Regions from separate parts of the Homo sapiens genome. Here region 1 is linked to region 2. Evidence: fine-mapped expression QTL. Tissue or cell type: tibial artery. Region 2 holds a variant in brackets; the other region holds the start of a gene. All regions are shown on one strand. Distances are between the middles of the regions.

The links. PIP is the estimated chance that this variant, and not a neighbour inherited with it, causes the effect. A credible set is the group of variants that fine-mapping cannot tell apart.
Region 1: it holds the start of PTPRR, and the variant in region 2 is the best candidate, but not a certain one, in a credible set for the expression of PTPRR in tibial artery (GTEx, PIP 0.51).

The regions. Positions count from the first base shown.
Region 1 is chr12:70,919,029-70,923,270 of GRCh38, reverse strand. It overlaps PTPRR (protein tyrosine phosphatase receptor type R), which reads left to right and starts at 2,533. Exons shown (of 14, transcript NM_002849.4): 1 at 2,533-2,938. The coding sequence starts at 2,881.
Region 2 is chr12:70,772,101-70,776,342 of GRCh38, reverse strand. The region is part of intron 2 of PTPRR (protein tyrosine phosphatase receptor type R); the gene reads left to right. It overlaps LOC124902960 (a long non-coding RNA gene), which reads right to left. Exons shown (of 2, transcript XR_007063361.1): 2 at 2,546-2,906. Among named protein-coding and RNA genes, the nearest start is that of PTPRB, 140 kb to the right of the region's middle. The variant G/A (reference allele first, on the strand shown) is at 2,115.

The DNA.
Region 1 (4,242 bases), 150 kb before region 2:
TGAAGCCGTTACAAGTATGATATTAGATTGACTCACATAGGAATATGACCTTTTTCGTTACTTTATCATTTCTAAGTAAATTAATAATGAATGTCTAGTCACCAAAATTACAGCCCACTCAGGGTTATTTTTACCATGCTGAACTAACTATTCTAATGATATATCCAGCCAAATTGGAAATTGGAAATTTTTGCTGCTAACGGAATTTTCATGCATAGTTTAACAATTCAGCTACCTGCAGCCCTGAACAAAATACATTGCCAGCAGGATGCTTTTTGGCAAAGTCATAGTCAATTATAATAATGGGAATTTTAAATGCCCCACCAATAAATGTTGGAATTATCTGTGGAAAAGGAAGGGGTTCAGAACATTACTGCAGCATTGTTTCATTACCATAAGTAAGTATATTTTATTCTTGGAGATCTATGTAAGTTTGATAATTAGTTATTTTAGGAAACAAGAAAATAAGAAAAATAGACCTATTGTAAGTGGGATACAATTATTTTTCCCTAACCTCCAGCCCTGCAGCATTTCTAGTAACAGATGTTAGATGAGAAGAGTTATTCTTCTAAGCTTTACAGAATGCTAAATAAATTATCTCAAAGGTTGACTCAGTAAGAATTTCAAAGAGTTAATTGTCAGTATTGAACTTTGTCAACTATCATTTTCATTTATTCATTTTTGAGTATCTATTTTGCATGAGGCATTGCTCTAGGGAGTTGGGACATATCAATAAAGTCATCAAAGTTCTTCAACATTGGAGCTCAAATTCTGTTTTGCGGGGGGGAGTAGGGAAATAGATACTAAACAATAGATTTTATAAGTAATTATTTTGGTTTGTTAGAAAGTGATACGGGAAAAGCAAACTGGAGGACAGTGAATCAGGAATAGGAGAAGAGGTTGCAGCTTAGAGTGGTTTGGGATGAAATGATAGTGCCACAGAAATGGAGTGTGCCACACGCATGGGGGAGTAGGGGGTGGAGCACGTTGCTAGAGAGGGGCTAGACATGGAGATATGTCTCTATTTTCAGCAGAGAAGGCCTGTCAAGATATTAAAAGTACATCTCATTGTCCCCTTCTCCCACTTGTTGGAGTGCTTCCTGGCCTTGTCTCTCAGAGCTGAAGATGACATAAATCATAAAAGAAATAAATGGTACCGCCTGGGCTCTCTGATCTTATAAGGTCCCACCTAATTTAAGCTCTGGTGGATAGCCTATTTCCCATTAGTTGTCTCAATTCACAGAGGATGGAGAAAGAAAGCACTGAATGAGATGTGCAGCTCAACTCAATGGGCACTTGTTAGCCCCAATTATTTGGCTAGGACAACTTTATTCAAGTTAATGGAATACAAAACTCAGCAGTTCTTATGGAGACTTCAATGTGCTGTAGAACAAACCACAGATAAATGAACTGTCTGAAAGAATAATATGAGGCACGGCTAAACAAGTGTTGTGGAAGAGAAAGATCACTGTAATCTAGAGTTAGTTAGAGTTAGGGCTTTCTGGAAAAGTGAGACCAACATTACACCTTCGAAAACTAGTGTGGTGGTGGTGCAAGTGGAGGAAAATGGGAAAGAGGCAACAGTGTCCATAAAGACACAGAGGCAGAAAGGGCAGAGGCCCTGGGATAGTTAAAAGAGAAGTCTAGCTGAGGGACTTCTTGACTTGACTAGCAGCAATTAGCCATGACTAATAAGGCTTTCCACACTCCAAAGACTTAGATGGAGGGATAAAAAACCATCTAATGGCAGACTGTGGTAGCCTCCCTAGAGACACAGAGCTGGGCCGGATGAGTCCAGGCACTGACGTGATCCATTATCTTTCACCTTAAAGAGTAAAAGGGAAACTAAAGTTAATTACCTCCACGAAACAAAAAGGTGCCTTCTTGTGCTTCAATTACATGGATATATTCTACTAGTCTAAAAGTATCTTCTCACTTCTTTCTGTCACTGTGAGGACTTGAGTCAGAAGAAAGTTTAAATACAGTCATTGAGCTGGAAAGAGTGGAAAGAGAAGCAAAGAGGGGGAAGCTGTAGGAAGGACGAAGTCACCCCCAAGATACATGGTTACTGCTTACACCAAGCAAGCTGCCTTGGGAACGCTTCCCCCGAGCAGCCAGAATGCTCAGCAGTGGAAGACACCTCTATTCCTGTAGGCGAGTCCTGGGAAGCTGGTCAATCTGCAAATGCCAATTCCCAGCAGTGAGCTCGGTCCACGTGTAAATCAAGATTTGGGGAAAGAGTAGGGTGGGTGGCATGGTTGACAATGTCATCAGCTCCCTCCTCTGACTCCTGTGGTCGTGCCCCCATCTACTCTCACTCAGCTACACCCCACCTTCGGATTTGTGATGGACGCTGGGTCCCTAGTAACCACAGCAAGTGTCTCCCCCGCACTTCCCCCTTCCCCACCCCCACCCCCACCCCCAACCACCACCCCAGCGATGGAGCCTACTCTGCTCCAAGCCGCCGCTAAGACCCGGAGAAGCGGAATTTCACTTTGAAATTCCCTTGCCTCGTGAGGGCCGGCGCTGGGCATGCTCAGTAGCCGCGGCGCTGCTGCTGGGCTGCTGGGCTGGCGCGGAGTCCACCCTGCCGTCTCCGCCTTGGCTTCTGGGCGTCCAGAAGGCCAGGCATTTGCCGCCTCTGAGCGCTTCTGTTCCCCTTACCCGCAACCTCCTACTGCTCTTCCTCTCTCCCTCTCTTAGGGAGGTTGAAGCTGGTGCTGGTTTCTGTCGGCGCCACAGACTGACTGCTCTGCAAACCCCAGCCGAGGACCTGAATCCCGGAGACTAGAAGACCCTTGGCGGTGGCTCTTTCTAATAGCACTTTACCTGAAGTGGGGTCGTGGTGGAGTTTCTCCTCCACCTCTCAATGCAAACACTATGCGGAGAGCAGTCTGCTTCCCTGCGCTGTGCCTGCTCCTTAATCTTCACGCTGCAGGTAAGGGGTTGCCAGGCTTAGAGCCGGAGCTGTGCATGAGATGGGAAACTGCACATGCTTAAGGACTCTAGGAAAAGCTTGCCTTGCGAAGAAAGCCTTTCTAAAAAGGTAAAACAGGACAGTACCTGACAGGGAAGGGGTGAGGGAGTCGTGCACCTGTTGGAAAACTGAGGCCGAAAACTTAACCTAAAATTAGCTCTTGATTTTTCTTTACTTTATACGAAAATAGTGAACATTTTCAATATGAATACAGGTTTGCTCCCCCCTTCGCCTCCCCTCCGTCTAGATTCCCTGCTCTTGTTTCTAGGCTATGCACTTAACTGTCAATTTTTCAGGAGAGGGATAAGACATCCTGCTAGATGTAACCTTTTCTACTGCAGCGGCTACTACATTCATAAGGTCTCTTGGTCTAGCGAGCGCTCATAGGAAGGCATTGGCTGTAACCTGATGGACCACATCTCCGCCCAAAAGATCGAAATACATGGTTCACATTAGTGATGCTGCACCAGGCTCCTTTGGCCCCTGCTCTTGTCACTCGAATTTTCTAAGCCAATAAGAGGAAGAAAAGGTTTCAAATAGAATCCTCTTGTCTCTTTCAGCACCGTGGCTAGCGTCCGCTGGCATATTAAAAAAAAAAAAAAAAAAAAAAAAAAAAAAAACAATTACAGTTCCAAAGCTGACAACCCTGGGTTAGGCACTGTCCCTCGGACAGATTTGATAAGGTGTAACCAAGAGTAACAGTGAGACTGCTCCCAAATATAAATAGATTTGAGGCACCAGAATCAATATCAAGTCTCGTGAGGAAGCAAACCTTGGGAAGTACCTGAGAGATATTATATGTGGTGTCCCTGCTTTTTGCATACATAGCACCTCTATTTAATGCAGACAGACTTGCTAGGCTGAATTCCTTATCATTGTCACACACACATGAACCAAAATAAAATATGGCAGGGAGATTTTAGAAACCCTACTGTGACAGCAGTTGTCCATGCAGTAGTCCTGTAACAACCAGAGACGAGGCATTTTCCCTGAGTGTGCTTCTCATCCAATCACACATATCCATTCATTCCTTCAAGCAACATTTGCTGAGTGTATACTATGTTCTAGGGGTAATGAGTAAAAATAATTGTTCTGAAATTACAATCCTTGCAGTATCTTTTTTAAAAGAGTGGGTGAATTTTATTCTCTGTGTACAATAGTAGGAGTGAAATATGGTACTTTCTTATTCCAGCTAACGCTATTATTTAAATGTATCATGAATCTTTTGAGCAAATAATGCATAGGATTATTAAAGCTATTATTAA
Region 2 (4,242 bases):
TGATGATCTGAACTAAAATGATGGAAATATAGATAAAGAAAATATGGGTTCAACATTCAAGGACTATTTAGCAGGTAGAATAGACAGAACTTGACTATTCACTGGATGTCGTGGTGGTGGTGTAAAGAATAAAGAAAGAAGAGTCGGGATGATACCCAAATATGATAGCTCATTCCATTATGTGAATGTAGAAAGAGAAGCAAATTTGATTGTGGATAGGAAGAAGGAGAAAGGTAAGTTCAGTTTGGGTAATGTTGAGTTTGAAGTGTAAGTGGGACATTCAGGAAGAGGGAAGCAGGTGTAAGACCATGAGAAAGGTGGAAATGTGTAATATAGAAATAAAAATAATTAATCTGTAACTAATAGCAGAGGACAAGTGCAGAGAATTGTGAGAAGGGAAGGGGTGAAAGCATAAAATGTCTCTAACAGGTCAGCGTTCTCTACTCAGTTCAAAGGCATAAACAGAGAACCTTTTGCTTTTATTCCTGGAAATCTCTTGCCATTCCAACTCCTTGGCCAAGAATGGAGTTAAAGATTCCAGGTTAAAAAAAAAAGGGTTGGGGGGCACATTTGAGTTAGAAGTGGATGGATTTCTTCTAGCAAGCTTTTGGTCCAAAAGGAAGCTTTGGTCCTTTTGTGGCTGTTGGGAATTGAGACAGCACTTCTCTAAGGAGCCTTGAGGCATCTCTTAGGAAGAAAGATGGACATTTGTCCTTTGCCCACTAACTGGACCACTGGGTGTGGTCCTGACTCTTACTGGGTATGACCAAATGAAAGTCCAGGCTGCCTAATAACTTCAGGAGGGGACTAACTGCCTCCCTGCTAGGCAAAAATAATTCAATTATCCTTTACAAAATAAATAGCTAAAAGCTAATCACATACTTATAATTCAAACATAATGCTGGTACCTGAAAGTGCTACATTTCATCAATCCTATCACCTCAACTTGTACCTAAGGCCCATAGGCTTTAACTACTTTGGTGGACAGTCTGGGAACCAAAGAAAGAAAGTCTTGTCATAAAATATTATTTCCTTTGTGGAGGGGAACAGTAGTGGGGAACTGACAAAGGAATCTAACAAGACAGAGGCCTGGTATATTTAAATATAGGTAGAATTGGAAGACTTTGAATTTTGTATGTTTTTTCTGTATGTTTATATATTTGTAATAACAATAAAAATACTCAATTGTTCTTATGTAGTAACTCTATGAAATTATGTACTGTTGTAAAGTGGCTTACCATTTGCATTTGGAAAGAACATTTTAATCTCTTTGAAATTAAAATGTTAAATCATTTGTATGTTAAATGTTAAAAATGACCAAATGGGTTTAGCATCCAAACAAAAATATATCGCAGAATGTTGTACAGCAACTTGAAAGCTGTTGCCTTGTTACTGCTGTGAAAATTTATATCCTGTCATACTTGTTATGGTTTCACATAATAGGATGAGGAGAGGCTGTGCATTTCTAGCATCTATCCAGACAGAAGGAGGTAGCATATATCTTCTAACTATATAAAGTCATATATTTTTTATTTTGTCTGAAATAAAATTCCCATTTTTATCTAGAATCCTTTCTTTTTCTCAAATTGCACTCATATATAATGCCTGGCATATATTAGGCCTTCAAATACATAGATATCTGTTTGTACTATATTTTAGCATCACTATTTTTATGGGGAAGAGTCAGAAATCTGTGCATGCTCTACAAAATCCAGCTTTTCTCAGACAAGCAGAGAACTGAGGAAAATCATTCAAATGTTTTGATGCAATGAACCAGATGATTTCAATTTCAACTAATTACTTCAACTCACTTCTTCACTATAGTTGGGTAGTCTAAATTTCTGTTTCAAATGTACAGCTTTTGTACAGCTTTCATATTTTTGCAAAGTTGCCTTTTTCAGTGATTTTTAAATCTTTAGTTCCCATTTCACTTCCCATTTACCATTTCAGTCTGAAACTGTAATACTGTTTCCACAGTTACAAGCCTCAAGTTAATCATGCCTCTGGGAATTGAGTTCTGCAGTGTGTACACAACCCCCTTGAGGGGGCTTGTGGGTTCCCAGCATAGACAATTGGCTCCAAATCCTGCCTCTGGGGATTCAGGCACACTGTGT[G/A]CCAGCTCACCCTGCCTGACAAACACTGCTGGTGAGACAGAGGTTACTCATTCACCATTTGAGAAAACTAAGGAATCCATCTTTGGCCTTGCAAGGGAAGGGTAGTAGACAGAGTCTCCAATACAGTGTCTCATCTTTAATGGCAGCTTCTGTAGTCTGGCAGAGATGAAAACAGGCCACGGATGAAAGGAAGCCTCTGTTTCTCAGGATGACCAGGTGTACTGAGTTTTTCTAGTCTCCCAGGTATGCCAGGTAGATGCGTATATTGTGCTTAACAGTATAATGCTACTTTCCTGATCACTGCATTTCCAAATCCTACTTGTCCTTTAAGGTTGGCTTCAAGTCTTACTTTCTGCATTAAAACATTCTGTTATATAATGGATGCATATTTAGGCTATTAAAAATACAGAAAATAATGTAGCAAACACTTGTGTACTATTAGATGCTTTTTATTTAATAAAAACATATTACTCTCTAGAAGAAGATAACATTCTGTTAAGAGAGAAGCCACTTTCTTCAGGTCTAGTAGGAATTGCTTTCTGTGACATGCTGAGAAATTAACCTGGAACAGAAAGATCTATTTCAAATTGTGTCTGGATTCATGTACCTCTTTTATTTTTGCCTCACCAAGACTTTACCACTGCCTTTACCCATGATATGCTCCATCTGCCAAGCCACCTCTGGAATAGAATTATGCTTCTAATGGACCTTCCCAGCCTCCCAAACAGCTCTCCAACCAGGAATGAACACCCAGGGAACCAGTTGAACTTCCTACTTGTATTGACTCAGAGCCTAAAAGAAAACAGAAGAAAATGTGCAAAATTACTAAGGTTCTTGGTCAATTCTCTGGCTACAAGTTAGCAGCTTCTTTCCTCAGAATTCTGACTTTCTCCTCGTTAAAGGTGGAATTACATCCCACCTCACCACCACCCCAGAATTCATATGTTGAAGTTCTAGCCTTCCAGTACCTAAGAATGTGACCTTATTTGAAAATAAGGTTGTTGTAGGTGTAACAAAAGTTAACAAGAGGTCTTATTGGAGTAGGGTGGGCTCCTAATCCAATATAAGGAGGCCCTTATAAAAAGGGAAAATTTGGACACAGACACTCAGAGGGAAGACGTGAAGACACAGGGAGGAGAAAGCCAAGTGATGACAGATGCAAAGATTAGAGTAATATATCTGTAATCCAAGGAATCCCAAGGATTGCTGGCAAACACCAGAAGCTAGAAGAAGCAAGGAAGGATTCTCCCCTACAAATTTAAGAGGGAACATGGCCCCACTGACACTTTGATTCAGACTTCCAGCCTCTAGTATGACAAGACAAGAAATTTCTGTTGTTTTAAGCTTAAAAAAAAATAAAGTAAGATAAATTTTAAGAAATTTTAAAGTGTTACTGATTGTGTTTGATATAGCTTTCTATATACTCCAACATCATTCTTATTTCTCCTCCCCAGAAGCAAATTGTTGCCTATTACTGGGCTCTCTTAGGTAGTTTTTTTCAATGATTCTGCCCTTTTCTGGATCTTAATTTTTCACAAGGAGTCCAGTTAACCTAAATTAACCAAATCTTAGGGCCCCTACCTCCATGCAAGCATTGAGAGACCCTAAGGTGGAAATGCAGGCTGGAGCTTTAGCTGGGCCCATCATCTTGACTGGGAACCCTATACCTCTTTTGACTTTCCAAATTCTCTCTGATTCCTATAGCATTGAGCATTTAATCCAGTTTCCAATCACTTATTTATTACCTACTTGCAGGTACAAAATAGAGAATATACTTGCAGGTAAAAAATAGAGGATATATTATGGTATTTCCTTTTGAGACTATAAATCCTTGAAACAGTATTAATCTCTTTTTAAAGCAAGCTGAGGGAAGTTCCCCTAAAGAGTTCCTACTCTATAGGAGATTGCACATGTAAACCAATCTCGTTATTAGAGAAGTGTGTACTCAGAAGTATGCCTAGCTTTACAGAACAGGTGATGTTGCAGCCATTCAATAGTTATTGATAGCCTACTATGTTCAAATTAGTGAATTAAGTATTATAAGAATAAAAGAAATGCATAAAGATTTGGTTTCCCTACCTTGAGTATCTCTCAAATGATTAATGATGCATTTTTGAAAATACATACA